Linked DNA regions of Homo sapiens. The protein of the gene in region 2 interacts with the protein of the main gene of each other region in a pairwise test. Each region holds a gene or a part of one and is shown on either strand. Other genes may lie near its edges. The genes, in order: BEGAIN and GFOD2.

Region 1 (3,813 bases), on a different chromosome or scaffold from region 2:
GACTGAATGAATGGCATAGCAGGTTCAGGCTGTCAGTTCACAAACATCCCCAGCCTGGTGTGGGCCTACTGTGACTGGAAACAGGATGAGAATATAGGGGAGGGATCTCAGGCTCTCGGGAGGCCACAGTGTCCTCCTCCCACCCTATGGTCCCCGACAGTCGCCCCTCTACACCCGGACAGCCCTTCCCCAGCAGCAGCCGTTCAGCCCCTGCCCTATTACCAGTGGGAAAGAGACTTGGAGGCTGGCAGATCCAAGTTCAAATCCCTTCTCCAACACTCCAACAGGCCTGCGGGCAAGCCACATCCCCTCCTCATCTGTCAGGTGGGCATGGGGCAGTACTCAGCCCATGGCAGTGCTGGGAAGTGGCATGAGCAAGGGACTTCAGGACTCATTAGCACTGGGGCTCTGATGTGGCCGTTTCACTAGCACGCATGGTTGCAGGAGTGTTCTGGGGGCTCTGGCCAACCAGTCCTCTGAGCTGCTTCCAGAGTTTCAGGCTGCATCAGGCAAGTTTCCGTTGTCATAACAACCTGCTGGCTCTCAGGCGCCTGGGCCTGAGGCTCTAAGGATGCTGCCGGCTACCGTGGGCTCACGGCCTGGACCTGCTCACCTACCAGCAGCCTGGACAACCTCTCCTGGAGGGGCTTCCGGCTCCTGGCACCGCAGCCCCTGCCTCTTGACTCATCTGATTCAGTCCTGCTTCCCAAGCCCATCCTGCGTGCCAAGCTCCGTGCTGTGCATGCGTCATCACCCCAAATCCCCACCCGCCTCTGTGCATCAGGACAGCCAAAGGCTCTATTTTCTGCTAAAAGAAGCAGGGTCTCAGAAAGGTGCAGTGACCCGTCGGAGGTCACATGGCTTGGGCATGTCAGGCCCAGGACAGAACCCCAAAGGTCAGGCACTCACACCCGTTTCCTCTCCAGATGCCCAAGCCCCTCTCCTGCTGCCTGGCACACACTGCCCCTGTGGTTGGAAAGCTGGCCCCTGCCAGCTCGGACAGAAGGGGCATGAGGCTGCCCACTGTCTGCTGGGATTGGAGCAGGAAGACCAGGCCACAGGATGTTGGGAGGACCCTGCCGAGTGGGCAGGCATGCCGGGCTTCTGCTGACAGTGCCAAACGTCACCTCGCTTCATTCTTACAGCAGGCCTGAAAGCTAGGAGCAGCTACCCCGCTTCACGGAGGAGGAAACTGGGCTCTGAGGGGTCTCGGGTAAACCCCCATGGTGCGGGCATGCGCCAGGGGCCGCAGCATAGGCCAGCAGAGGTGTGGTCACCTTCACCAACCTTCCCCTCGTCCCAGCACAGAAGTTTATTTTTTTTCCTTTCTTTCTTTTTTCTCTTTTGTTTTTGAGACAGGTCTCGCTCTGCTGCCAGGCTAGAGTGCAGTGGCGCGATCTCGGCTCACTGCAACCTCTGACTCCCCGGTTTAAGCGATTCTCCTGCCTCAGCCTCCCAAGTAGCTGGGATTACAGGCACGCACCACCATGCCCAGCTAATTTTTGTATTTTTAGTAGAGATGGGGTTTCTCCATGTTGGCCGGGATGGTCTTGATCTCCTGACCTCGTGATCGGCCCACCTCGGCCTCCCAAAGTGCTGGGATTACAGGCGTGAGCCACCGCGCCCAGTCAGAAGTGTCTATTATTATTCCCCTTTTGCAGTTGAGGACACTGAGGCTCTGGGAATCCGCACACTTGTGCTCCTAATCACCTGCCCCGCTGTCCCTGGATTTTCCACGCTGGCCTCAGAATCTCCAAGGGCAGCCATGGTCTTGATGTCTCCCAGTCCCCAGCACCCAACACAGGTGCCCCAGTTCTCTTCCTCAGATAGGACATGTACACAGCTGTCCAGGTCTTCCAGGGAGATCCCTGGGCAAGGACGCCCCTGTAGGAACCCCGGCTGGCCGCTGACCTTTCGAAGAGGTCTCACTGCTTCTTCCTTATTTCCTGAGTGGGTCTTCCAGGGCAAAGCGGGCCTGGAAAGGCCAAATAGCTGTTAGTTTGGGTTGGCTTTTCTCCCACCAAAGTCAAGGTGGGGTTAAGTCTCCCTGTCTGATCAGCCCCCTCCTGACCCTGCGCCTGCGTAGTATATGTCTCTGAAGCAGAGGGACATGGGGGTCTGTGAGCAAAACACTGGCATCTGGGAAATCAAGGCATGAGTGACCTGAAGCTTCACCCATTCAACCAACCGTCCTTCACCATCCACCCCTGTGACCGCTCACCCATTTACAGGTGCCATCCACGCACCAACACATCCTTCTGTCTCTGTGTCCCTCACCCGCTGATGGGCACTCATCTGTTCACTGGTCCTCTCACTCCCGTCTCCATCTGTCCGCCTGCCCATCCCTCCATGTCTGTCCATTCCTCTGTTACTTGTGTCTCGTATCCATGCATCCATTGCTTTGTATCCATTTGTGCACTGAGCTGCCTTCTCAGGCCTCTATCCACACATCCGTCAATATACACTCATCACCTATCCATGCACTCACTCTTCCAGTGTCCATTCATTCCTCTGTCCATCATTCATGGACATGTATTCAAGTATTCATCCACCCATCCCAACATCCAGGCACTACCTGTATCCATTTATGTATCCATTCCTTCATCCATCCATCCAAAGATCCTTCCATCCATTCATCTACCAATCTTGCCTTGTGTATCAGAAGTCTCCCTCCCTCCACCCATGTATCATCCATTGATATTTTGTTCTATCAATCCAGTCCTGTATCCATATCAACTTTTCCATCTGTCCACCCACCCATCCCTATCTTGCTACTTACATCCATCAACCTCTCCTCCCGTCCATCTATCCCTCTTTCTCTCTTTCTTTCTTTCTTTTCTTTTTTTCTTTCTTTCTCTCTCTCTCTTTCGTTTTTCTTCCTTTTTTTTTTTTTTTTTGATGGAGTCTCACTCTGTTGCCCAGGGGCTGGAGTGTAGTGGCACGATCTCGGCTCACTGCAACCTCACCTCTGCCTCCTGGGTTCAAGCAATTCTCCTGTCTCAGCCTCCCAAATGGCTGGAACTACAGGTGCACACCACCACACCCACCTAATTTTTTTTGTATTTTTATAGAGACGGGGTTTCACCATATTGGTCAGGCTGGTCTTGAACTCCTGACCTCAGGTGGTCCACTCACCTTGGCCTCCCAAAGTGCTGGGATTACAGGCGTGAGCCGCTGCGCCCAGCCTATCCCTCTAGGTTTCTACCCATCCATCCGCTGCTCTATCCTGCTAGTGCTTCCCTTCCATACAGTATCATCCACCCATGCATCCCCTTCAGCATGCCTGCGTTGCTTCTCCACCTCATGCACCTCTTAATCCCAGCATGCACCCACTGTGGGATGACCAGGCTTCCATGTCTGGCTTCCCCAGGCAAAGCCCAGGCCTGACCCATCTCCATCCCTGACTTGGGCTCAGGGCTTGCTGATTGAACCAATGACTGCAATTCCCCTGCTTGGCTCAGAGCTGGGCCCTGGCTGATCCCCACCCCAGGCAGACCACAGAGGCTGCTGTACTGTCCTCCAGACTCAAGGCCTGCTGAGGCAAGGGCCACTTTTGAGTTCCCTTCCTGGCTAGAGGGGAGAGAAGAGCCCCAGCAGCTCCTGACTCCTGCCGTACTGGCCAAGGTCCATGTCTCCCAGCAAACTGTGGACTCGTGGAGGGCAAGGTCTGTGTCAGACTCACCTAAGTGACCCCAATGAGCAGTGCAGAGTGGGTGCTTAGGTACAGCATGTTAGGTGAGTGTAGAATTCACACACTTAGTCATTCATCATTCATTCATTCATTCATTCCTATAATGATTAAAGCAATAGAGA
Region 2 (3,913 bases):
CCTCCCAAGTAGCTGGGATTACAGGCGTGCACCACCATGCCCCGATAATTTTGTATTTTTAGTAGAGACGGGGTTTCATTATGTTGGTGAGGCTGGTCTCAAACTCCTGACCTCAGGTGATCCACCCACCTTGGTCTCTCAAAGTGCTAGGATTACAGGCATGAGCTACTGCGCCCGGCCCAAAGCTTTCTTCTTTAAACTGATTTCACCTGTTAACATTATTATACTTCCAATGTATCTTCTTATAAGGGCAAGGGGAAAAACCTGCTGCAAAGTCAAATGTAAATAGAAAATTAGTTTTTATCAAGCTAGGGACAAACTGACTTTGATGATTAGAATCAGGGACCATCTTTTAAAAATCACATAGTTCTAATTTTTAAGTTTTGGGTCAGAGGAGGCTTTCTAAAAAATTGCTAGTTCTACTACCAATGTGTTCTAGTATTACTATAGAAATCAGATAGCAATTGCCCTAGCAAATAAAAATAATAATGAGGGCTGGGTGTGGTGGCTCACACCTGTTATCCCAGCACTTTGGGAGGCCAAGGCAGGCAGATCATCTGAGGTCAGGAGTTCAAGACCAGCCTGGCCAACATGGTGAAACCCCTTCTCTACTAAACATACAAAAATTAGCTGGGCGTGGTGGTACATGCCTGTAGTCCCAGCTACTCAGGAGGTTGAGGCCAGAGAATCGCTTGAACCTGGGAGGCGGAGATTGCAGTGAGCCGAGATCGCACCACTGCACTCCAGTCTGGGTGACAGAGTGAGACTCCGTCTCGATAGATAGATAGATAGATAGATAGAGAATTAGACCCAGACCAATGATTATTCCATGGCAAAGTGGGAAAACCAGGTGGTAAGAGATAACCTCTCACAACAGAATCTTTATCTGTGAAATAAGGATTCGACCAACAGAACCGTCTGTTGAAAATTTCCTCTCTTGGTCCAGGCAGGTTCTCTAAACTCCCAATCCCAAAGCAGTTAATTTTTTCACGTTTCCTGTAAAATGGATGGCCTTAAAACTCTTTTGTTCTCTAGTGTAGCTTTCCAGAAGGAAATAAGTTTCCTTATCAAGAATGAATCTAGCTTCCCCGACTCAAAAACAACCATCTTCTCTATATTGCTCCATATCACAATAAATTTAAGTGCCTTCCTTTTCTAAATTAAATGCTGTTCCCTTCAACTTAAGGGCCACACACTAAGGGCTATTCCTTTAGAGGCTTTTGGGCCCCACAGATCACAAAGGTGGTGCCCTGCCCTAGTTCTTTCTGGACATTTAAAAGGACATCCACTTTCTTGCCCTCAGGATAACATTATGGGAACAATGAACATAAATAAGACAGTTAAATAAGCTTCCCTGATGCCTATCCAATACAGCTTTCAACTCTTCTATCCTGCCTTGTTCTTTAGATCGTGCTGTAGTCTGGAGGGTAAACTCTTCACACAACCATTCCCAAGCCCTCATGTCCCTGTCCACTCTTCCTCCCTCACCTTTTAAGTGTGATAGGGCCTTGATGGGAAGACCTCACTTCACCTTTTGTCTCAAGTCCATCTGCTTCCTTCCAGAGCTACAAATACAAAGGTAGGCCAGGGCCATTGAGACGTGGCCATAGGGCACATGGGAGCTGGCAGAGCCACTCGCACCTTCTGGGGTGTCCCTTCTTCCACCTGTCAACTGAACACCCGTTTCTTAAAGATTTATCCCCAAAAGTCCCATCTCATTCTGAAAGGGGACGAACCAGCTACCCCACGAGCCCTTTGTCTGAGCTTCTACACCTCACACATCCTCATCCACAAAGCGTCCATCCTCACACAGTCAGGTGGTCCGCTCGGCACAGGGCGGGGGAGACTAGGTTTTTGCATCTGGTAAAAGGATGGGTTATGTCTCAGGTTCTTCCAGGATCCCAAATCCTATAATTCTACCACCAAGCCTGCGGGTCCTATTTCTGCGGTGGAAAGGGCGAATCCCAAGGCGACCCTCCACTCCACGCGCCTGCAGGCAGTTGGAACAAGCCCCCTCCAACCCCGGCTCTGCGGGTCCACGCCTCCAACCTCCGGCGCCGGGCCGCGGAGAAGGCCCTGTCGGCGCCCGCTCCCGGCCGCGCCATGCCCTCTTTCGCCCTCACCCGCCACCGGTGGCCGCCTCTCACCTGGCACGCTGGCATCGCCCACTCCGCGCTGCACTGGAAACCATGGGTCCGACGGGGTCTCGGGGGCCACCCATCCGCCTTAAGGAAGGCTGGCGGGGATGCGCGGGCCCGGGAGTCCAGGGCGCCGCCACCGGGAACGCGCCGCCTGGTTTCTAAGGAACTGGGGGCTCTGGAAAGGGAGGGGCGGGACGGCAGGAGGACTGCGCATGCTCCATAACGGGGATGGGCCTGCGCTGGGAGGGGCCGTAGCCGGGAGCTGCGCATGCTCGCTTTTTGGGGGCGGAGCTTAAGCAGCCTGGCTAGGAGGCTCAGGTTATTCATTTCCGGCGGCGGAGGCGGCAGTTTCCTAAGCTTGGCTTCTCTCCGGTCCGCTGACCGGCGTCAGGGACCAGGTTTTGGTAGCTGTGGGTAGCCTCAGTTGTCCTGGAATGAAAGACGGTTTCGTGTTGGACAAGGACATATCTGCAGAAGGCCAGTTCTCTCGAACTCGTCGGACTTCCTGGCTCCCTGACCCCCAGTGACTCGTTTTTCCGTTTTCTCAGGTGCCTGTCTGGGCTCCTCTTCCTCTGGATGTTTTTTGATTGTTCCTTAAATATCAGTGCTCTTCAAGACTGTAACCTCAGTCCCCTTGGCCTCTTTACTGAAGCCTATGCCCCACCAAATAGCAAACTATCCGCTAGAGTAAGGAAGCCGTTAGACCTTAGAATAAAACTGCCTGTGTAGGAAATGTGATTGGGGTTTGTATCTGCATGGGGAGCCCCCGTCCCTGCTTGTCTGACCCTCCTGCTGAGTATCAAGATCCCCACTCAGCTGGCATTAGGATGATCTCCCAGCCATCATTCCAGAGCAGCCTGTGGTGACAGAATATGTCAGCTGACCTAAGCGTGAGGCAGTTCCTACTGAGATATGCTAACTAGCAGCAGAGCTATCCCTGCTTTGAGCGGAGACAGGACTCCTACCACCTCTGTGAGGAGCATGGAAGGCTTCCAAAGTGATGAGAAGTTGTAACCCCTAAACCCCCCCTCTTCTGATGGGATTTTATCCTTTCTCTCCTGGATCCTCTAGAGCCAGGCAGAAGGAAGGCAGAGTCAAAATGTGCCTGTTTGATCTGTTTCTTAGTCATTGTTCGGAGTTCCACTCTTCTTGAGTAGGATTTCTCAACAGTGGCACTATTGACATTTTGGACCTGATAATTCTTTGTTGGGCAGGGGTGGGGGGAGCTGTCTGCATTGTAGGATGTTTGGCAGCATCCCTGGCTCTACCCAGTAGATGCCAGTAGCACCCCAAGCCCAGTTGTGACTACCAAAAATATCTCCAGACATTGCCAAGTGTCTCCCTGGGAGCAAAATCATTCCCAGTTGAGAACCACTAGTCTAGGGGGAAATGAGCCTACTCTGGCTTTACTTATATAGAACCAGGACTTTATGCTTAATCTAAAACCCATATTTTCCCCTTTATGCTACCTCTTCCCTAAGAGCATTCTATAGAGTAATAGTCCTGTAAGATTCTGCTGAGTGACACAGTCTGTAGTAACTTAAGTTTGGAAAGTGCAGGGTTAAGCAACACATTTTAACACAGGATTGAGCTTTTAATTAGCTGGTGGCGATCACTGTGAACATCCATAAGACAGTTTTCCTAATTTACTGGACCACCTCCCAATTCCAGTGACTTTTTTACTGGCAAACCTCCCCTAATTTACTGGCAAACCTCCCAATTCCAGTGACTTTTAGCCACTGCCTGCCCCCTTCTGTTCTGTGTTATTTTGT

The links.
Region 1: the proteins of GFOD2 (region 2) and BEGAIN interact in a protein complementation assay, tested with the Homo sapiens proteins (one large-scale study listed by IntAct).

What each region holds. Positions count from the first base shown.
Region 1 is NC_000014.9:100,580,813-100,584,625, forward strand, and holds part of BEGAIN (brain-enriched guanylate kinase-associated protein), read right to left. Parts: intron 1-3,813. UniProt on the Homo sapiens protein: May sustain the structure of the postsynaptic density (PSD).
Region 2 is NC_000016.10:67,717,016-67,720,928, forward strand, and holds the start of GFOD2 (glucose-fructose oxidoreductase domain-containing protein 2 isoform 1 precursor), read right to left. Parts: upstream 2,302-3,913; 5' UTR 2,148-2,301; intron 1-2,147. UniProt on the Homo sapiens protein: Promotes matrix assembly.